3 linked regions of the Homo sapiens genome follow. The protein of the gene in region 2 purifies or fractionates together with the protein of the main gene of each other region. This does not show direct contact. Each region holds a gene or a part of one and is shown on either strand. Other genes may lie near its edges. The genes, in order: WNK1, SPATA1 and NECAP1.

Region 1 (3,657 bases), on a different chromosome or scaffold from region 2:
AGGTGTGGTAACTTCAGGTGGTCTCCCCATACCACCTGTGTCTGAATCACCAGTACTTTCCAGCGTAGTTTCAAGTATCACAATACCTGCAGTTGTCTCAATATCTACTACATCCCCGTCACTTCAAGTCCCCACATCCACATCTGAGATCGTTGTTTCTAGTACAGCACTGTATCCTTCAGTAACAGTTTCAGCAACTTCAGCCTCTGCAGGGGGCAGTACTGCTACCCCAGGTCCTAAGCCTCCAGCTGTAGTATCTCAGCAGGCAGCAGGCAGCACTACTGTGGGAGCCACATTAACATCAGTTTCTACCACCACTTCATTCCCAAGCACAGCTTCACAGCTGTGCATTCAGCTTAGCAGCAGTACTTCTACTCCTACTTTAGCTGAAACCGTGGTAGTTAGCGCACACTCACTAGATAAGACATCTCATAGCAGTACAACTGGATTGGCTTTCTCCCTCTCTGCACCATCTTCCTCTTCCTCTCCTGGAGCAGGAGTGTCTAGTTATATTTCTCAGCCTGGTGGGCTGCATCCTTTGGTCATTCCATCAGTGATAGCTTCTACTCCTATTCTTCCCCAAGCAGCAGGACCTACTTCTACACCTTTATTACCCCAAGTACCTAGTATCCCACCCTTGGTACAGCCTGTTGCCAATGTGCCTGCTGTACAGCAGACACTAATTCATAGTCAGCCTCAACCAGCTTTGCTTCCCAACCAGCCCCATACTCATTGTCCTGAAGTAGATTCTGATACACAACCCAAAGCTCCTGGAATTGATGACATAAAGACTCTAGAAGAAAAGCTGCGGTCTCTGTTCAGTGAACACAGCTCATCTGGAGCTCAGCATGCCTCTGTCTCACTGGAGACCTCACTAGTCATAGAGAGCACTGTCACACCAGGCATCCCAACTACTGCTGTTGCACCAAGCAAACTCCTGACTTCTACCACAAGTACTTGCTTACCACCAACCAATTTACCACTAGGAACAGTTGCTTTGCCAGTTACACCAGTGGTCACACCTGGGCAAGTTTCTACCCCAGTCAGCACTACTACATCAGGAGTGAAACCTGGAACTGCTCCCTCCAAGCCACCTCTAACTAAGGCTCCGGTAAAATTATTGTTATAAAATAATTAGATAAATATGATCAGTTTTTTTTCTCCCTAATGAGTACATTTTTCACTTCAGCCTTGTAAGTTAGAAACATATTTATAAAGGTACCTGGCTTATAGTATTTATTAAATTGACAGCAGTTTGAGGGTATATCTACAATGAACATGAGATTTTTTTTTCAAGTGTGGCAGGATTTTAGGGTTAATTATGCTGCACAGTTTTCCAAGATGGTATAATTATCGGGTAAAATACAGGTATTTCTTCTGAATTGGTACAAACTGAAGAAGTCTGTATCCCAAAAGGGAGCTAAATGCATCTGTCAGCAAAATGTACGTAAATAATAGCAGTTCATAGTCTTTGTTTCAGTGAGAATGAAGCAAATTTTTGGTTTTGTTGTAGATTCCACAGTTGTACAGTTTGGGGGTTATAAAAAATTGGAAGTTAGTAAGGAAATTGATACAGAGGAGAAATAAATAATCTAATCCTAGGACTGAAGTAACTAAAATTTATTATCTAATTATGCTGTGGTGGATTTCCTCTTGTTCTGCCACCTTCTCCAAATAACAAGGCTGTGTTACGTCTACTGTATTGTATGCTTCAGCCTCTTTCTGCATTGCCATTGATGTGAGGTTCTTTTTATAGTAGGATAATGCAGAATCTTCACTCAGATAAAATAGAAATTCTTGATAATAGTATTAGATTTCTGATGCCTTTTGTTATCAGACCTGCCCATTGGTTATTTCTTAACCAGTTACTGTTTTCTTTTCTCAGAAAATCTTGTTTTACATGGCGAAAGTCTGATACATACTGTACCAAATAAGTAGCTCAAGAATATCTGGACACTGCCACTTATGTACATATAGCCTTTGTTCTGTTCTCCCTAGGGGACAACTTTTTACTGTATTTTACTATTCATTTTATAGGTATATCGTAGTAACCCCTATAATAACAACATTAGTTGTCACACCGTTTTTTTAAGACAGATACCAGAGAGTAACCTCAGTGATAAACATGTCTTAACTATATATATTTTATTCTTATGTTTGTGCATTCAAATTAGTTGATTTGCTCTTCAGTACGCAGTCTTTATATTTAGCGTCTCACGGACTTGATTTTCCCTTTGTTGTCTGTAGGTGCTGCCAGTGGGTACTGAACTTCCAGCAGGTACTCTACCCAGCGAGCAGCTGCCACCTTTTCCAGGACCTTCTCTAACCCAGGTGCCTCAAGACTTGACAAATTTCTTCCTGTGCCCTACTTTCTTTGACAAAGCTTGCTGAAGTTCTCCACTACGTGGTCTTGGCTTTTGCCTATTTGTCTTTGACTTAGTAACACCTTTCTTTTAAAATGTTATAACCAATGACCCAGTTCCTACTTAAGTAAGAAGCTTCATAGCTCTTTTGTTTGTAATGTTGCTTCCGGTTATCCAAAAACACTTGATACTAATTTTTTTTTTATATCTTATGAAGGAAGAAAACAGCAAAGCAAACATTTTGTCAGACCCATATAGCTCCCTTTATCACTCACACTTCTGTAGAATAGCGAAATTGCGTATATAATCAAAATTAACTTTGAGAGTGCCCTAGAAAGGAGAAGCACAATATGGCAACTGAGAAACTTTTTCCGCGAGTCCAGAGCAACCAGTCTCTTCTTGAATGTTGATCATTTCTTTCACTAGCCACCTAATGAAGGAATTAGCTTACTTATAGGTAGGTATAGGGGTGATGTTTCATGAAAACTATGTGTGCTGTCTCTTTTAAAATAAAAGCCACCGAGCTCAGTGAGATGCTAACATTATGAGATCACTCATGGAGGAACTGAGACCAGCCTCATGAACTTGAGATTCCCATCTCACACAGTTCTGCTCACTTGAGTGCAGTGGTGGACAGAATTACCTGTAATATTTATTATTTCTCTTTCCCACCGCAGTCCACCGCCAACACATTTGTTGAATTTCCATAAGAAAAGTACTAATTGTGAATCTGTTGTGACCAGGAAAAATCTTCTGACATGAGACAAGCCAGTAAACTTTTAAACTAAATTAGGAATTTATTTTTGAATCATATATAAGAAATAAGAAAAACATGGTAAATTGCTTACTTGAGAAGCTGAGTTGGAATTTATCCCTATTTCTTTGGTCCCAATGTACAGGGGAACACTATTTGAGGAACTTGCCACAATGAAGTAAAAACCCCAACAGAGAAAGCACTCCATCAGCCACCACATTTGGGGGAAAGTGCATTGTGAAAGTCCGTAAATCAGGAGTTAGAAAATTAGTTTTAAACTTATTTTCTCATTTAAAAACATGGATTCAGATTTCTAAGGGAGTATAAAGTGTGACAAAAAATAGCAAGTGAGACATGTGGAGGGGTAAGGGTAAATAGCTAGTGCCTAGATAGAGGGAAAGGCCTAAGCAAAGACTGTGCAAGAATAGATTGATAGAAGCCAAGACAGATGTAGGATTAGACTGTGGAAGGGTAGAAGGAAGCTGTGTGCTTGCGGTGGATGGAATGGTTAACAGGATGGAATACCCAGACCTCCTTGCC
Region 2 (3,657 bases):
ATCTAGAATTTGACAGGATATTTTTGTTGAAATAACCAGTGTTAAATAATAGCAAAGATAGATATGGTTGGGCACCTTCATTGCATGATTAATAGGATAGGCATTAACTTCTTTTAGTATCTGTGATAAATTAAAAATTATATTCCTATTAGAATTTGAGTACTTTTGACCTGTCATTCATTTGATGTAGGCTTTGCATTATCCTCTTCAAAGTTTGGATTGGTTTGTATTCCATCAGTCAACTAAATAAAAGATTGCTTGTTCTTTTGTTTTTTTTTTTAATTTTTATTTTTTTGAGCAGGGTCTCACTCCATCACCCAGGCTGGAGTGCAGTGGCACGATCAGGGCTCACTGCAGCCTCAACCTCACAAGCTCAGCCTTAGCCTCCTGAGTAGCTGGGACTACGGGTGCATGCCACCATGCCCAGCTAATATTTTCATTTTTTTCTTTTTCTGAGACAGAGTCTTGCTTTGTTGCCCAGGCTGGAGTGCAGTGGCACTATGATAGCCCACTGTAACCTCGACCTCCTGGGCTTAAGTGATCCCCCAACCTCAGCCCCCTGAGTAGCTGGGTATACAGGCATGCACCACCATGCCCAGCTAATTTAAAAAAGATTTTTTTTTTAAGGAGATGGAGTCATACTATGTTGCCCAGGCTGGCCGCAAGTGATCCTCCCACCTCAGCCTCCCAGAGAGCTTCAATTACAGGCATGAGCCATTGTGCCTAGCCACATACCTATTTAAAGTTGAAAAATAACTTATTCTGTTAAAATTACGAAGTAATTATTAATTGAGGGTTCCCAAACTGTGTTTCAGGCAAGACATTATAATTATGTTCTATCAATAAAAGGTTCAAGCCTTGGGAGGCTGAGGTGGGAAGATCACATGAGGCCGAAGTTCAAGCCAGCCTGAGCAACATAGGGATACTTTGTATCATAAATAAATCAACAACCAAACTAAATAAACCAATATGTTTGGGAACTGATACATACCCCACCCCATTTTTGGTTATTTAATAGTACATAATAACATTAAAGGCTCTAAAAAGTAATAAAGTTTTTTAGCTGAACATTCTAGGTAATCTGTGAATATGTCTTGGTGGAAAAACATGTTTTGCAGCATTGGGCAAGAAAAGGACTGATAGTTCCAGGGATTTGTTCATTTTTCTCTTTGTTTCCTCCCACTATAGATGACACATTTCTTATCCCCAGCTTACTTACAGAATATTTGCAAAACATGGAACACTTGTACTTTCTAAGAAACTCTGAGACCATCACTGCTAGAAAGTTAAGATTTATAAAACTTTTTTGAAACTTTAGAATCTAGAGTATCAAGTATATCATATCTTAGAATTAATAGATATAATTAGCATACTTTCCTGAAATGTGTCATTCTTCCTAGAATTAGATTTTGTGAATATTTTATTTCAGTATGATCTTAATTGTTTTGAATGTTTTCTCCTATTCAAAGAGAAATGGTTTAGAAAGCAAGATATAGAATTTATGGTTCTTAAGGGATGTTTTATAACATATTAAACAATATTAGTGTTTTTTATAAATGTACTTGTTTTTACAAACAGATTCTGAACGGTTGCATAGCTTGTATGAACACATTGACATATGAAGAGAAACAAATATGCTTTTTCTCTCCTGCTTGACTAGGATATAATGACTACATCAAGATGAGCATTAATCCTAAGAAACTTGTAATGGGTGTTCCTTGGTATGGTTATGATTATACCTGCCTGAATCTGTCTGAGGTAGGAACAGTCATTTGTTACATAATTTTTATTATCTATTATATTTTTTAGAGTCTCTCTGTTTTCATTAGAAATATATAAACTTTAGAATCTCTGAAATATAGTTTGAGATAAAAATTATTTATTTTTACTTCTATGAAAGCTTATGATTATCATACATTTTCATTTAATAATGAAATTTATTTTAACCTTTTTTCTGTATAGTCAGGTTTTCTATGGTATATGTTTTATTTCTAAATAATTTATATATTTTTGGTTTGGCTTTTAAGAATTGCATAATTGATAATATATAACATGAGCACTTTTGCATTTCTAGGATCATGTTTGTACCATTGCAAAAGTCCCTTTCCGGGGGGCTCCTTGTAGTGACGCTGCAGGACGTCAGGTGCCCTACAAAACGATCATGAAGCAAATAAATAGTTCTATTTCTGGAAACCTATGGGATAAAGATCAGCGGGCTCCTTATTATAACTATAAAGTAAGACTTTTCGTAAGTTATGAGCATTTATTCTATTAGTTTTTGTAATTATTTTCATAATTAGATGTTTGATATCAAGAATTTCTATCAGTTTTCTTTTAGGGCATAACATGCAGACTGCTATTTACATGAGTAAACTTGTCTTTGAATCTGTAATCAGGAACTTTAGTTCCCTGGCGAGCAATTGGAGTTTTGCTAATGGTGAATCTACTCTGCTTGGGCCACTTGTCATTTAGATGATGCCATAAAAATGTGCATATCACAAACAGGATTTCTGTAACAGTTGACAATTATGTTAGGATGACTGTTGATTTTGAATGGGTTTTGGGCCAAAATAAGTTACTATCTCTGAAAGCCTCCATTTCAAAGTGGCCTACAGATTCTGATGAGACTTACATAGGGAGGAATGAGGCTGAGAACAGAAGAGGTGTCATAATCGACTTTACAATGGAAAAACTATCATTTTCAATTTATTTTATAATTAAATTATAAAGCAATGTCAAAACTTACAAAAATATTACATAAAGGAAACCTGAAGAAATACACTAAGTGATTAGCAATTCTGTCAAGTAGTGTTTAATAGGAATTGCTATACCAAAATGGCAAAGAAAAGTTACAGTTTTCATAATTTACCTTTAGCATTATAAAGGCTCTTCCACAGCTCAAAAATCTAAGTACAAATCCTCTTTGAATTTATTTCAGATTATGTTACTTTAAAAGGAGTACTAAAATGATATAAGTGAAGTTCAGCAAGGATTTATATGCTTAATTAATGGTCTGGTACCCATTTATAAAAAAATGACTGCAAACACACTACATGTCATAAATTATAATTGATATACATGTGTATGCCTCCACAGAGAGCTTTAGTGTAGAGCTTTCTAAACTTTGGAACTGAAAGTATATACCTATTAGTGAAACTAGAGTGTATTGTAATCTTATCTTTCCTAAACAGTGTTTATATTAGTCTGTCCTGGGAACTGTTAATATTACACACACAGATGCACATGTGTGCAAAATATACACACGTGTGCCATGGCCAAATATATTTAGAAAAACACTATATACTGTACGCCCCTCTTGGAGATTTGTAACAACAATTATATTAATGGGTTTGAGAAGTGCTGTAATACATAAGGTAGTTTAATTGTTTGACATATAATCTTGTTTCACAGCATTCTTAGAAACATGCAGTTCTTAGAAACTGTTTCATGGATATGGTTTGTTAAAAGTTATGGTAACCAATTACATATACAGGCATACCTTAGAGATATTGCAGAGTCAGTTCTAGACCACCACAATAAAGTAAATATAGCAATAAAGCAAGTGACATGAATTTTTTGTTTCCCTGTGCATATAAAAGTTATGTTTATACTATACTGTAGTCTGTTAAGTGTGTAATAGCATTATGTCTAAAAAAA
Region 3 (3,757 bases), on a different chromosome or scaffold from region 2:
GGTCATTTTGTTTCCATTTTTTTCACTATTACAAACAATGCTGTAGTATTATTGTACATACTTTTTTGTGCATATAAGGATTTCTCTACAATATTTATTAGTGAAACTGCTAAATTGAAGATTACGTCCAATTAATATTTTGATAAATTCTGTTAATTTCCCTTTTAAAAATGCCGTGCCAATTTACATTCCTGCCAACAGTGTATGAGATTAGACTGTTCCTCACGTCCTCGCCAGGGATAAATGTGGTAATTCTTTTTGAAATTTAAGATATCACTTTCCAAGGTGGAGCAGACAAATTAGAGGCAGGTTTGCTTTTTTTTTTTTTCTCATTAAACTTTTTTAATGGGTCTCAAAATTCTGTGACAAATTTTTGGATGTTTCCATTAAAAAGTACTGATTTAAAAAACTAATAACTTAAAACTGCCACACGCAAAAAAGAAAACCAGTGGTCCACAAAACATTCTCCTTTCCTTCTGAAGAAGAAAACCAGTGGTCCACAAAACATTCTCCTTTCCTTCTGAAGGTTTTACGATGCATTGTTTTCATTAACCAGTCTTTTACTACTGAACTTAAATGGCCAGTTGAAACAAACAGTTCTGAGACCGTTCTTCCACCACTGATTAAGAGTGGGGTGGCAGGTATTAGGGATGATATTCATCTAGCCTTCTGAGCTTTCTGGGCAGACTTGGTGACCTTGCCAGCTCCAGCAGCGGTGAAGACTGCTGCTGTTGTAATGAGGCAGGCTTGAGTTTCTGTCTCAGTTTTGCCACTTGCTATCTGTACTGTCAGGGTGTTGTGGTTAAGTTTACCTTTGGGGCGCAGAAAAAGCATATTTATGGTGAGAGTTCGGTAGCATTTATCATTATAATAGAACTGGGAGCTAATATAGGCCATTAGATAGTTCATTATGCTTCCGATTTTATCAGGAATTGGGTTGATCCCACGTATAGTCTATTTAACAGGATCAAATTTTCCAAAAAGATAATCGGAATACACGCCGAAAGTGTGGCAAAACATTTTAACAGGTGTCGTCCTGAAAAATCGGAGATAAAGAGTGTAAGGCACTAAATCAAGTTGGGTGTTTTCAGCGTTTAGACTCTGGAGAGTTGAAATCCACGGTGTCTATGACCAGATCATACATCATTCTCTGCAGGTACCTCGTCTGGGACTACCGGCTGGAGGTTGCCTCTTTTCTGCCAGGAGACTACAGTTAGGAAGTGACTCCTGTAAGAAAATCCGTCACGATTCAATATGGTCCTCGTCCTCGTAGGACACTCCAGGCACCTGCCTAGAGTAAGATGGCGCTTTTCGTAAGCACCTCTCCAGGACAGAGATTTCCATAACGAGAGTCACGCACTTGCAGGCCATCTTTGCCATTATCCAAGACGGTGAGCCGTGCAGCCTCATCGTTTCCAGGTTTCAATATGGCTCCCCGCGTCACCGAAAAGGTTAATCTCAGAAACTAACTTGAACTCGCGCGGAAGTGACGCAACAGAAGTTGTCGCGCTTTGCATCTCCGCCTCCCGTGCTCCGCCTCCGGTCTTACGTTTCGCCCCCGGCAGCGCCGACAGCGGACCCAAGATGGCGACCGAGTTGGAGTACGAGTCTGTGCTGTGTGTGAAGCCAGACGTCAGCGTCTACCGGATTCCGCCCCGGGCCTCCAACCGCGGTTACAGGTACTAACCCCGAGGCGCTGCCGCACACGCGTACTCTGTCGCAGATGACAGCTTCCTTCTCAGCTAGCACGCTGTCCGTCCCTGCCACTACTACCTCTGTATTGTCACCTTGCTAGCCTCCCTACCTGGGTTGTCATCTCCCTGACCACCTGCTCCATCTCCACTCTGGACTGTCATCACCATATTTCTGCCGTTTTTTTTTTTGTTTTGTTTTTTATTAAATTACCACTCTGCGTTATTCCACTCTGCCTCTCCCGTAATCCCCTGGGGCACCCATCTGCTCCCCATCATGCACTTTCAGTCGTGCTTGCTCCATTGCCAGTCCCCTTTCATTCGCTCTTCCCTGCGTCCTTCAGCTTATCATCCTCATCCTTTCTCTCTCTCTCTCTCTCACACACACACACACACACACACACACACACACACACACACACCTTTCCAGTTCCCCATGCACATTTATGGGTAATCGTGTTGCTTGCCACTCTGGATTATCTGATTTATTTTTTGTACTGTTGTCAATTTCGTCACCAACTGTCATCATCCACCATTCGGTTTTTCCTTCAGCAGTTTTACCAGTGAGCAAAGGTTATGATCATAAGCTTTACAACGGTTGTTCATTCTGTTTCTTCTCATTGTATTTTCTTGATGATTATATAGTATTTTCTGTCTTCCTTCCCTACCTCCCTTCTTAACCTCTCCTACACCTTTTCCCTCCAAAGTTGAGGCAGCATTTTTCTCTGTTGGGCCTAACTACCTACCTTGTAATCCAATGACTGTGAGGTTCTGAGGATGCTATAGGACATTATGTAGTTGAAAGACAGTTCACTGGGCTTCATGTTAAACCATATGAGTGTGAGCCCTTTCCAAGCCTCAATTTTCTCATCTGTAAAATAGAAAAAAAAACCTGTTAGTGATGATACCTGCGCTCTTATAATGTGCTTAACAAGGGTTTTTGGGAGAGTAAAATTAAATCATATAATGGATGTGAAAGAATGTAGGAAATGCAATAAAGCAGTTACAAATACTATTTGTTTGTTCTTTTTTTTTTTTTTTTTTTTTTTTTTGAGATGTAGTCTCACTTTGTTGCCCAGGCCGGAGCGCAATGGCTCAATCTCAGCTCACTGCAACCTCCGCCTCCTGGGTTCAAGCGATTCTCCTGCTTCAGCTTCCTGAATAGTTGGGATTACACGCATGCACCACCACACCTGGCTAATTTTTGTATTTTGAGTAGAGATGGGGTTTCACCAAGTTGGCCAGGCTGGTCTTGAACTCCTGACCTTGTGATCTGCCCACCTTGGCCTCCCATAGTACTGGGATTACAGGCGTGACACCACGCCCAGCCGTCGTTTTTTTTTTTTTTTTTTTTTGTTAGAGAGGCAGGGTCTCGTTCTATCATCCAGGCTGGAGTGCAAGTGGTGCAATCACAGCTCACGGCAGCTGTGTACTCCTGGGCACAAGGGATCCTCCTACCTCAGCCTCCCAAGTTGCTAGGGCTACAGGCATTGCCTCACAATGCCTGGCTAATTTTTAAATTTTTTTGTGTAGACAGGATCTTGATATATTTCCCAGGCTGGTCTCGAACTCCTGGCCTTAAGTGATTCTCCTGCCACAGCCTCCCAAAGTGTTGAAATTACAGGTGTGGGCCACTGCACCTGGCCAAGATACTGTTCTTATTCTTCTCTCTGACCCACATCATCATTGTGATTTTTCCTCCTGGCATTTATCATTACCTTGGCTGAAAAGTTACCCTCTCCTTATGTCTGTTATTTTGCCCCTTACTGGCGTTTTATTCATCATGAATCAATATTTTTATGCTTGCTGACCTGTGCGCTGGGCCCTGTGGGTTGCACCTTTGGCAAAGAGGTAGCAGTTCTGTTTTTAATAAGCTTTTAGTTGGACCCCAAACTGACCCTAAGTAGAAATCAACATGCTTTTAGATGGTAGTTACAGGTACTATATGAGTCACTTAAACATCACCTTCTTTGGGAGGCCCTATGTGACCCTTCCATTCTGGTTTAGATATGCACCCTGTGTGCTTCCATAGCACCTTTTTCTTTTTCTTTTTTACTTTAAGTTCT

Evidence for each region.
Region 1: the proteins of SPATA1 (region 2) and WNK1 purify together in Homo sapiens (affinity purification with mass spectrometry; one large-scale study listed by BioGRID and IntAct). This does not show direct contact.
Region 3: the proteins of SPATA1 (region 2) and NECAP1 purify together in Homo sapiens (affinity purification with mass spectrometry; one large-scale study listed by BioGRID and IntAct). This does not show direct contact.

Annotation. Positions count from the first base shown.
Region 1 is NC_000012.12:884,974-888,630, forward strand, and holds part of WNK1 (serine/threonine-protein kinase WNK1), read left to right. Parts: coding exon 1-1,111; intron 1,112-2,247; coding exon 2,248-2,331; intron 2,332-3,657. UniProt on the Homo sapiens protein: Serine/threonine-protein kinase component of the WNK1-SPAK/OSR1 kinase cascade, which acts as a key regulator of blood pressure and regulatory volume increase by promoting ion influx.
Region 2 is NC_000001.11:84,561,836-84,565,492, reverse strand, and holds part of SPATA1 (spermatogenesis-associated protein 1), read right to left. Parts: intron 2,237-3,657; coding exon of another isoform or gene 2,075-2,236; intron 1,759-2,074; coding exon of another isoform or gene 1,661-1,758; intron 1-1,660. Other genes in the region: CTBS (di-N-acetylchitobiase precursor), read left to right, coding at 1,661-1,758, 2,075-2,236.
Region 3 is NC_000012.12:8,080,705-8,084,461, forward strand, and holds the start of NECAP1 (adaptin ear-binding coat-associated protein 1), read left to right. Parts: upstream 1-1,569; 5' UTR 1,570-1,584; coding exon 1,585-1,679; intron 1,680-3,757. UniProt on the Homo sapiens protein: Involved in endocytosis.